Regions from separate parts of the Homo sapiens genome. Here region 2 is linked to region 1. Evidence: fine-mapped expression QTL. Tissue or cell type: thyroid. Region 1 holds a variant in brackets; the other region holds the start of a gene. All regions are shown on one strand. Distances are between the middles of the regions.

Evidence for each region.
Region 2: TOX starts here. The variant in region 1 is fine-mapped to the expression of TOX in thyroid (GTEx, PIP above 0.99).

Annotation. Positions count from the first base shown.
Region 1 is chr8:59,056,642-59,062,018 of GRCh38, forward strand. The region is part of intron 1 of TOX (thymocyte selection associated high mobility group box); the gene reads right to left. Among named protein-coding and RNA genes, the nearest start is that of TOX, 60 kb to the right of the region's middle. RefSeq lists an enhancer at 2,145-2,681. The variant G/C (reference allele first, on the strand shown) is at 3,109.
Region 2 is chr8:59,116,084-59,121,460 of GRCh38, forward strand. TOX (thymocyte selection associated high mobility group box) reads right to left here and starts at 3,064. Exons shown (of 9, transcript NM_014729.3): 1 at 2,803-3,064. The coding sequence starts at 2,904. TOX-DT (TOX divergent transcript) reads left to right here and starts at 3,127. Exons shown (of 3, transcript NR_149031.1): 1 at 3,127-3,202; 2 at 3,874-3,988; 3 at 4,253-5,377. RefSeq lists a silencer at 3,589-3,808.

The DNA of each region.
Region 1 (5,377 bases):
TCTGTGTCATTCGTTATATAAAAAAATGCACATCAATGCAGAAATTTCTACTCCGTTCTGTTATCTGAAAAGTCACATGCCACCTGTTTAGGAAGTATCTGATTGAAAAAACCAACTGTGCATGCTTCCCTAGAGTCCCACATAAGCCCACATGAAGAGCAACTAGAAAAAGACAAAAGCAATGGCCCTTTCTTGGCAGCAAGTCAGATCTCTCCGTTTTAACTAGCTGCTTGGAAAGATAAGGTCATGACATGTCTAGAAAAACTGCACACTTACTTGAACAGATAATATACAAAAAGCTGGCCCTAGCCTTTACTAATGTAAGAATCTAAATTTTTATCCCCAGAAAAAAAGAGTATGAAAAATACCCTTTGATACCCTTTAATAACGTAGTTCTTTCCTCCCAAAGCAGTGCTGTCTCCCAAGCTCAGCTCACCCAGAAAGCCACCACTGAACAATCCAGGGAGATGAGCTGCTCCACCTTCCAAATGCTAGTGCTGCCTTGAGCACTACATATTAATGAAGACATTAACTAGTAAATTTATATTTAAATAAAAATATGATTCAGGGAAAATATTGAAACATAAAATGAAAAATATGCTATAAAATTTTCTGTTACAAACTGGCCATATCTTGTAGAAAAAAAAATCACATACAAATAGTATTTATTACACCTCTGACACTACACTGAGCCCTTTACAAGTATTATTTGCATACAAGCAGAGGCAAAGTGTCATAATACACACCTCATAGGTTTGTTGTGAGAATTAAAAAGAGTTATTGTGTATAAAATGTGTAGAACAATGTTCAAGACACTGGAAACAATAAGTATTAGTTCCTAGTATCTGATTTAATCCTCACCCCAAACACCTAAGGATTAGAGATATTAAAGAACTTGCCTAAAATGACATTGTGTCACTCCAGATTTCATGCTTGTAACTGCTGTGGGTGAATAAAAAGTATATTCTCTCCGCCCCCCGCCTTTCAGTGTACACAAACAAAACAGTGTGTATATGAATACCATATATTTATAATTATATATATGAATGCTGGGAAAAAATGCATGCTGAGTGGTCGAATTACACATTTTTATTGCTTCATTTTCCATATTTTCTACAAGCAATATGTATTCCTTTAATAATCAGCTGTTTTTGTAAATATCTTCAGGAAACTTCAATCATCAAAACTTCTGGAAGTTGTTTTTTGTTTTTTGGAGTTTTTTGGATACAGAGTCTCACTCTGTCACCCAGGCTGGAGTGCAGTGGCACAGTCTCGGCTCACTGCAACCTCCACCTCCCAGGTTTTTTATGCTTGACCCAAAGGGTGCTCTAGAATGTGGACTACAGGTCAATCCAGGCTCTAGACGGAAAAAATAATATTTTTAAAATATAAAACCAATATCCCTATCCTATTTCAAAAGGATTTTTGTTTAGACAATGGTTTACTTATTATTTGAAAGCTTAAAGAAAAAAATGATTAAGCAACTAAGAATATCATCTCATTTCAGATGAGTTCTCCCCATGTAAGCTTGCTACAAAGGAGCAGAATTTTCAGGAGCTGCTCAAGGCAGCACTAGCATTTGGAAGGTGGAGCAGCTCACTTCCCTGGATTGATCAGTGGTGGCTTTCTGGGTGAGCTGAGCTTGGGAGACAGCACTGCTTTGGGAGGAAAGAACTACGTATATATTTCAGGACTATGTTTCTAAGATGACATAAAGGTGGGAATGAAAAATAGCATGAGCTGGTTCCTTCAAGTGGTCCAGAAGGAGCAAGTGGGGCCATGAGGGGAGCAGCTGTAACTGGTGGAAATGGTGAGCTGAATCCACATGCTTGCCCACTGGAAGGAGACACCTTTGATAATTTCATTTCTGTCTTTTTCTCTTTGGAGACACTAAGTTCCGGAAGAAGGCAAGCCACATTCTCAGGATCATGTGGGTCTGCCCCAGCTAAAGATGTACAAGCTATAGGGACTCCTAAGTGCGAGCCCTGTGACTGTTCATCCTTAAATACGTTAGCAGCCAGCATGCTGACTATGATGAGTTGTGCGCTCCAAGTCAGAGGGTCTGATTCCCCAGGTTCCAGAAGGAGCTCAGGAGGCTCCATGGTGCCTTTCCCCACCTGCAACTATTTTCCTACCAGCCACTATCCAGCAAGAGCCTCCTAGACCAAGGAGCCTTTCTCTGTTTACAATTAACAACAACAAAATATCTATTAAAAGGTCAGAGTTTCTCTCAATGAAGAAAGTTAACACAGCCCAGGGCATCCAGGAAGACAGCCAACTCTGGTCTTTAATCTTGCACATCAAGCACACCCTGATGGCCAACTTCTCAGCCAAGTGAGACTGCTGGTTGGCCTTTCTAGAATGTAGGAGGCAAACAGTAAAGTCTTCTTCAAGAGCAGTAAGAGTAATCTGGCCAGAGAGGATTTGAATTGAGGTATACCGGCAGCTTTTCTATTTGTTTGTAAATGAGAGAAGATAGAGGTATTTTAAGTAGATAATGAGGGTGCCTAACTAGTGAAGTAAGAGCCAATTTGCTCTAAGTAATTGTCTTCTAGAATATAAAAAGAATTTCAAAAAACATGATCCTTTCTCATTCCCCTTCCTTCACATCACCAAAATTAAAATAAAATTTAATTCCTTTCTAAGAGCCTGGAGAAGGTGGGGCTACCTTGGATGTTCTTCTAAAGATCAGATGAGCTCCTACAGAATCCCCATTCCAAGTACCGGAAGAAAATAATTTAATTGGAAGGTAAAAAGAAGAAATATTTTACTCTTTAAATTTTTTTTTAACTGAGAAATATCACCAAGTTACTAAAGATACAGAATGGAAAAGGAAGAATAAAGAGTCATTAATAAATATATCTCCTCTGAACAACATCAACACTCATTTTGTTTCTTAAATGTCCATACAGTGGTCTACTGTCAAATTAGATAACATGAATTTATATTATTATTCAAGAAAGAATCCCATATCAGGAGGCCCATATTTCAATGCAGAATGGATTACATTATTTGTCAAGGAAAACACATTACTCTTTGAAAAACAGAAAAGTTGACCTTGGCAAACAGTTAGTAAAATTATTCCCTACTTGATTTCCCTTATGTACA[G/C]AGTGTGGGAGAGCACATATTTAGTGCTGCTTTGTGGCATTGTTTCAAAAGAACTCTTGTTATCGTGGCCAGAAAGGAGTAGTGAACATCTAGAAAATGTTCACATTAGTGTTGGGAAGTGACCAAAGTCTTGTTTCCACCTTTTATGTTATGTTGTAAAAAAAAAAAAAAATCTTTTAGAAAGAAAATCATCTAGATTTTTATAGTAAGTAGACACAGGCTTAATGTATGCTTATCTTTTTATCTTTTACCTTGATCAACCATAGTTCTTTTTTTTCATAATCAGAGACAAATACAAATAAAGCATTTATTCTTTGACAAAATTCTAAAATTGTGTAACGATTTCCCGTTTTATTAGGATGCTATTACCTTATCATTTTACCTTGTCTCAGCTGGCATTCCCACTATTTTTGTAATAATTGATAACAGAGTGTTTAATTCCATCAAGACAACATTTGATAGCCCCGTGTCTTTATGTCTTTTCATGTGGATTACTCAAATCTACCTCAACAGACTTACTTATCGCAACTCTTCCTTTCTTCCTTATACCCTTCTGGCTCCCAATCCCAATAGTGTGCTGGCTATTAATATTTTATGGCTGGGCGCAGTGGCTCACGCCCGTAATCCTGGCACTTTGGGAGGCCAAGGCGGGCAGATCACGAGGTCAGGAGATTGAGACCAGCCTGGCCAACACGGTGAAACCCCGTCTCTACTAAAAATACAAAACATTAGCCGGGCGTGCTGGCACGTGCCTGTAGTCCCAGCTACTCAGGAGGCTGAGGCAGGAGAATTGCTTGAACCCAGGAGGCGGAGCTTGCGGTGAGCCAAGATCACACCACTGCACTCCAGCCTGGGTGACAGAGCGAGACTTCATCTCAAAAAACAAACAAACAAACAAACAAACATTTTATATGTAATAATAACATAAAAATAGTACTAATAGCCAATGTTTGTTTTATACCTGTCACCTTTTTGAAGCCATTTTTGCCTGTTATGCCATTCAATTCTCTTAGTAACATCAAAAATTAAATAATACCATTATCCCATGTTACAAATGAGGAAACCAGGGCTGACAGAGACTGACTATACTTGCCACTGTATCTTGTTGTTTGGTGCCCTTTATATCTTATATTTAGAGTGGAACATTAAGCCACTCATAACCAACCAAGGCTAGTTGAAGAACAACGCTACTATTGGGGGAAAACCTATTTGAAAAATACAATCGATCTTTTCCTGCTGAATGTTCTTCCCTTGTATCACTCCCTACTCAAAATCTTCCATAAAGCTGCATCTTTTAGAGTTACTGAGATATGAATAAGTCAGCAAAGATTACAGGAGATTACCAAGAGATTGTACGGTAAAAATGATAGATTGTAAATAATGTAAAACAGAAAATGAAAACAGAACATGTTTACAAAATTGTAAACCAAATCTGTGTTTGAGTGTGTGCGTGTGTATACTTGTGCATAAAATCATGTTATTAAATGACTGGATCAAAGTATTATGAATGGCAATGCTTCAGCTTCTAAATAATCAATGTGGATCATCGAAAACCAAAGAAACCAAAGCAATTGGTACTGATTGTTGAGATAAAAGGCATTTGATGAAAAGATTGTATGGAAAGCAATGCCACAAACCAGTTCACTCCTGTAAATGGAGGAACAAAACAGCTTGTATCTCTAAAAGATAACGTTCAGTAAAGGTTTAGTAATTACCTAGTATTTTTTTCTCTGTGATGGCCTCTTCGGTAATTTCCTCTACCACAATTTTTAAATAAATGTTTTAAAATGTTTATCTGGTAAAAATCCCCTCTTTTCCCCCACCCCATAGTCACTACTAGCAAAACCCCCATCTGGCTGTAAAGATCCTTAACCAGTTTCATAGTTGGTGGCCAGGTGATGATAAGAGGATGGCAACCCCTTGAATAAAGCCCACTCCTTTATGTCGGTCGTTCCATCATTTAACACTTTCCTATATATATCTAGTAGCAAGAAACTCAGAAGGTCTGGAATGACAGCCTCTTGGAGATCACCATGGAAGAGGAAGGCAGAGCTAGAGAAAAGCAAAATCCACGTGCGCCCATGCCCAGCCCCTGCCAGGAGAGGGAGGAAGGCAACAGCAGAACAAGGGGAGTGACGCCCCTCCATCTTCTTTCTTGGCGCTTCTCTTCTTCAGATTCAGATTTTATCTTTTTATGTATTTTCATTGAGATTTTACAAGCTCAAAAGCTTGTTCTGAGGAATATTTACTTGTCCTAAACATTCCAAGA
Region 2 (5,377 bases), 59 kb after region 1:
ATGTCACCGGGAAACTGTAGCTACAGTTGTAGGATTCTAAAGCACAGATAGATACTGGTTCCGCTGGGATTTAGCACACCAACTTTAAATAAGCAAAGTGTTGACAGGTTTAAAATAAAGATAATTAGTAATTTATGATCTTATCACCCTATTAAAAACAAATCACCTGACAAACTGACTGCTATTTGTAGTAAGCTACATATTCATTACGCCTCCGAAGGAAGCAAGATTTACTTTGCAGTATTGTTCTTTTGGGGATGTCTGATCCAACTTGTTTTAATAAATGTAGGCACAGATTTCTTACTTCACCTTTTCCAAACTTCTGTCCTTCTTCCATTTCCCTGCAAATCCACTCATGTCATTGCAAAAACAAATGCTAGTTGACTGCATTATGCACAACTACAATTGTGGAGCTGGACAGAAATTTTGTACCAATGCTAATCATGGTGGAGTGAAAAAACTCAAGTGCCTGGGATTTGTGGGGCCTAGAAAACTATCCAGTACATTTAATATAATCGGGACCAGTGACAAATATATCTGATGGACTGCTACACAGAGATGGGCCAGAGATGTCCCTGGAGAAACATTTCCATGAAGTCTTCTTCCACTATTAGAAACATGTCTTATGACTTTGGATTTTAAAAAATCTATTATTCTCTGGATAAGTTAAATAGAAGACTCGCAACTAGTCTACAGAAAGGGTGCCTAATTTGCATTTAAAAAGAACAGTTTGCTTCTTATACACGGGGTGACTTAAAAGGAACTTCAATGAGCTAGTAAAGAAATTCTGAATACTTTCTAAATTAATTTATTCAATTCACAGCACAACCCACTAAAATTATTTAAAGCACTTAATTGGAAAATGATTTAATATATTGAAGTAATTCCTGATTTTCCAAAGCATTTAACTTTTAAATTAAATCTGACCCTACTTATCACAAGAACGAGGAGTGAAATGTGTATCCAAGTCATTAACTTCTTTTTGGGGCCTAAAATCACTGATAAACTTAATAAGATTTGTCCAGTCTCATTGCCAAAATAGTTCTGAGCTTTTGGTTCCGGTAACTACAGTGGAATAAGTCTTTACTCTCCAAGATAGGGCTGCAACTTTATTATTTTTTATTAGCAATAGTATTGGTGTCATAAGCAAAATAAAACGTAACACAATACTTGAGTGTACAGACAAAACAGATTTTAGACTAAAAGAACTATGTCACCAGCAAATAATGAAACTTCATCACACAAACTCCTATGCGCTTGCCAAAGTTCCCCGTACCTTTCAACTTGCCCGTAGCTGAAGGGCTCCCTGTACAATGGAAGCCCTTCTGCCTTGCTCAAGACTGGATGTCCCTCTTTTCTAACTTGCCTAAACACCATCGGCACACAGCACAGTCCTTTGAGTGGGTCTCACACTGGACACAGCATCGAGGAGCTTCTCCACGGGGAAGTGTGTGTGTGAGAGCCTGCCTGTGTGTCAACACTGTCCAAGACTCGGAGCTGCGACTCGGTCGCGTGGTGCGGAGTCCAGGGCTGAGAAGGCAGCGCACTAAATATCTCTGTATCAGGTAAAAAAGCCGTTTGGTGATGACTCGCCACCAGGCAAATGTTGGGAGTCCCAACGATTTTTCCCGTGGAATGCACCGAGGGTCGCCATGGATGTGCCTGCAGGGGCTGTGAGTATCAGGCAGATTTATCACCAAGCGAGAGTTGGGCGTCTAAAAGGCCCGCCCAGCGTTTTAGAGAACTCAATTCTCTCTGCCAACGTTCATCCAACGGGACTGCTTAGACACGTCCAACTAGCCCTAGGCGTGGGCAGTCGTGCCCCTGCGACCACTCTGGGGGACCGGTCCCTGCGTGTCCTCCCTCTCTGGGATGAGAGAGTTCGAGAAGCCGGGAGAGTAACCCCCTCCCTCGTACCCCCTGACTGTCCTATAGGTGGACCCAGCCGAACTCCGCAGCAGCCCAGGCCAGCGCCCCACCTCCGGGTCACCGGCATGATCCGCCTCTCCCCGGGCCCCCGCGGCCCTGGCACCCGAGGTCAGCGGGCCGTGGGTACAGCTCAGCCGCGGACCCTGCTCCGCGAGTGCGGGAGCTTTGGACTTGAACGCGACGTGCTCGCCCGGCTCCCAACAAACTTGCAATTTCCGCGCGCACCCCTTAAACAGGAACTGTTCCCCAAACCTTGACCCAGCTACCCCGCTGTGCTCTGGCCCGCGGACCTGTGTCCGAACCCGGGCTCGGCTGCCGGAACCGGTTTGAGAAAACAAAAGAGTTGTGGGGCAGTTTTCCCTGTGGGGGGCAGGGGCGCCTCCCAGGTCCCTGCACCCCGACTCCCGGCTGCTCCCCTGGCAACTAATCCGGAGAAGGGAAGTGGTGCCACGAGCCCCCACTGCCCGGGGAGGGAGGGAGAGAGAAGGGGGAACTGGGAAATAAACTGAATTCTCTTACTCTGCCTCCGTTCCTGGACCCCAGACACACCCCCAAAGTATTCCACGGTTTTCTCTTATTATTTTTTTAAACGCCCCCCGGCAAACCTAGGCAGGGATCCTTAGCCGCGAACAGCAGGAAGGAAAGAATCCGAGCAAATCGTGTCACTTTCCGCACAATCGCGGTGTTTGGCAAGCCCCCGGAGCTACTCCACAATATTTACTACCCAAGCGCACGCAGGCTGCAGCGGGCTGCGAGCCGAGCGCGCCCGGGACCGGCCTCCGCCAAGCCGGCCCCGCCGCGGCCCGGCCACCGCCGCTCCCCTCCCAGGATCAAGCAGCAAGAACACGGTGGAAACAAAAGCAGAGCGTTCACCTTGTTGCAATAGTAGGGGTCCAGGCAGGGAGAAGGTCCCAGACAGGGAGCGTCGGGCGCAGCGGCGGGCTGGGCTGGAGGTGGATAAAATCTTACGTCCATTTCACTCTCACATCAAGCAACTCCTTTTCTTTTTCCTTTTTTAAAAAAAAGTGTTCAGCAAAACAAGCTTAGACGGAACAGAGTGAGGTGTCTGGGCTCAGGAGTAAAAGAAACACCTTCCTTCCCTCACATCCGTTTGTGGTTTGTTTAAGAAGAAGAGGAAAAAAAAAAAAAAGAGGGGGGAAAAGCGCTCAACTCTCCCCCAAGCCGCGGCGCGCACCCGTCGGCGCCGAGCGCGCAGCCTGCTCCACCGCCGCCTCTTGGTCCCGCCGCCGCCGCTGCCGCCGCCGCCGGGCAGGTAACTTCATGCGCTCATTGTCCCCCCCGCCCGCCCCCCCATCCCCGCCTCCCGCGCCCCTCGCAGCCCGGCACACGCGCTCGGGCTCTAGGTACTGGGCGTTTTATTGGAGATTCTGAGTTGTTCTGCTTGTAGTTTATTTTCTCCACCTTGGAGGCCCGGGATGTGGGGGGTGGGGGGGTGGGGCGGGGATCCAGAAGGGACAGGGCGGGAGGGGGGCGAGCGTCCCGGGCCGGGCGGGGTAGGGAGCGCGGCCGGACGCGGGCTCGTCAAGGCCCAATGGCTGCTGTTCGGAACCAGAGGCCGGGGACCGGAGAAAGGAGGAGCGGAGAAGGAGAAGGAGGAGAGCACGGCCTGGCTGGGACAGAAGCGGTGGGACCCTGGGAGGCCTCCGCTGTGCCCGTGCCGCGCTCCTCGGGACCAGCGCGTCGCACACAAAGGGGCTGCCGAGCCAGAGCCACCAGCGGCCTCAGGGCACCGTGGGGAGCGCGCAGCTAGGGGGCGCTGTGGCGCACCCCGCCCCGCAGCCCCGCCCCCGGCCCTCCCCGGCCCCACCCCACTCCCACCGCCCTCTCCGCGGCCGTCCCCACCCCTATCTCCGCGACCCCCACTCCTCCTCGGCTGTTCCCCAACCCTGTCACTGTGCTCCCCTCCCTACTCCCGGCCCGTAGTGGAGGTGACTTTCCTGCGCAGCGCCGCTTCTGAGGGCGGAGAACCCACAGGGAGTGCGACCCCTTTGCACGCTGTGAGTGGGCAACTGTCCGAGGGACTCGAGCCGATCGAAGGGTGAGGACCAGCTCGCCTGGGGGTGGACGGCCTGGAAAAGCCGCCCCTCTTTGGCTTCCCTCTGCCGCCTGCAGCCCGCACCCCTCCGAGATTCGTGCCCCACTGGACGGTTTGCGAAGGCTGAGGCTGCCTTGGGGACTCACAAAAGACCACAGGGGTGATTCGAAGTGTAAATAGGGAAACAATCATCAGCACACAATCCGGCTAAAGGGATAACATATGAGTTTGCTTGTTGTCCTTCATGGGATTCTTCTCTTTTTATAGCTGGACGCCCTATAGGGCTCTTGGCAGTCCACGAAAGACCTGGAGTCCGCCTCCCCATTTCTCCGGTCGGTGAGTGGCAGGAGGAAATCGCCAAACATGTTTTCCCGCTTTGCCTCCCCAACTCGGAAACTTGCAACTTGCCGTGTCCTGGAGGTTGAGACAATTTGGGGTCTCTTGGCTGCCGTCCAACAGATTTATCTCTGAGGGCAGTGTCCTTGGTGAGAGGTCCAAGTAGGTGTGGGCGACATTGTCCTCCATCTCATGAGGGAGCAGCCCTGCACACTAGGGCCCAAAACTCTGCGAAGGAGCTTGGAAGTTCTTCATCCGTTCCACTTGTTTTGCTACTCCACACACCCTTCTAGGACATGTTGATTGCCAACTGCTCTGTGCAGCTTTCCCATAGCTGTCTGTTCCCGTGCATTTCGGAGCACCAAGCAAATACGAGCAGAGAGACCTGGAAAAAAAAATGATGAAGACAGTATTAATGATAAAATTAACATGGCTGAGTGAATTGTCAATGCAAGTTCCTTTACTAACTCTTTGTTAAGTTTTGCTTTGTACTCCTTACATCCTCTTTCTCTTAAGCCATTGTTTTAATTTCTTCTCGTTATCATTTTTAAAAGTAACAGAAATACAGCTTTCTTCCTACCTTCACGATTGACTTGGTGGAGGTTGGGTTGCAAAGAGGAAGCAGTAAGAAAAAATAATTATTCTATACATTCACAAGTCCTTCAAGGCACAAAATAAAAGTAAGAAATAGAAAATATGTCCTTTCTCCTAATAAAGGTCTTTATAATAAAATTTAAATGAAGTTTTGTGTTTCATAACAGCTTCCCAAATACTGTTGTAGATACTAAAATGTGCCTGTATGTATTTCCTTCCACAATAATAATAGTAATAATAAACTTTTTTAGGTCCAAATTAAACATTTCTCAGCTTAAATTTCTATCCTCAATCCAACATTTATTATATCAAAACTTGATTTTTAAAAATAAAACTTTCTTGGAATTCATCATTGATGTCTGTTTGATGGCCTCGTGAACATCAGGAAGATGAAATGAAATGGTTCAAGACTGGAACAATACCATTATCTGCATCTTGACTCCTGGGAGATAATGATATCTC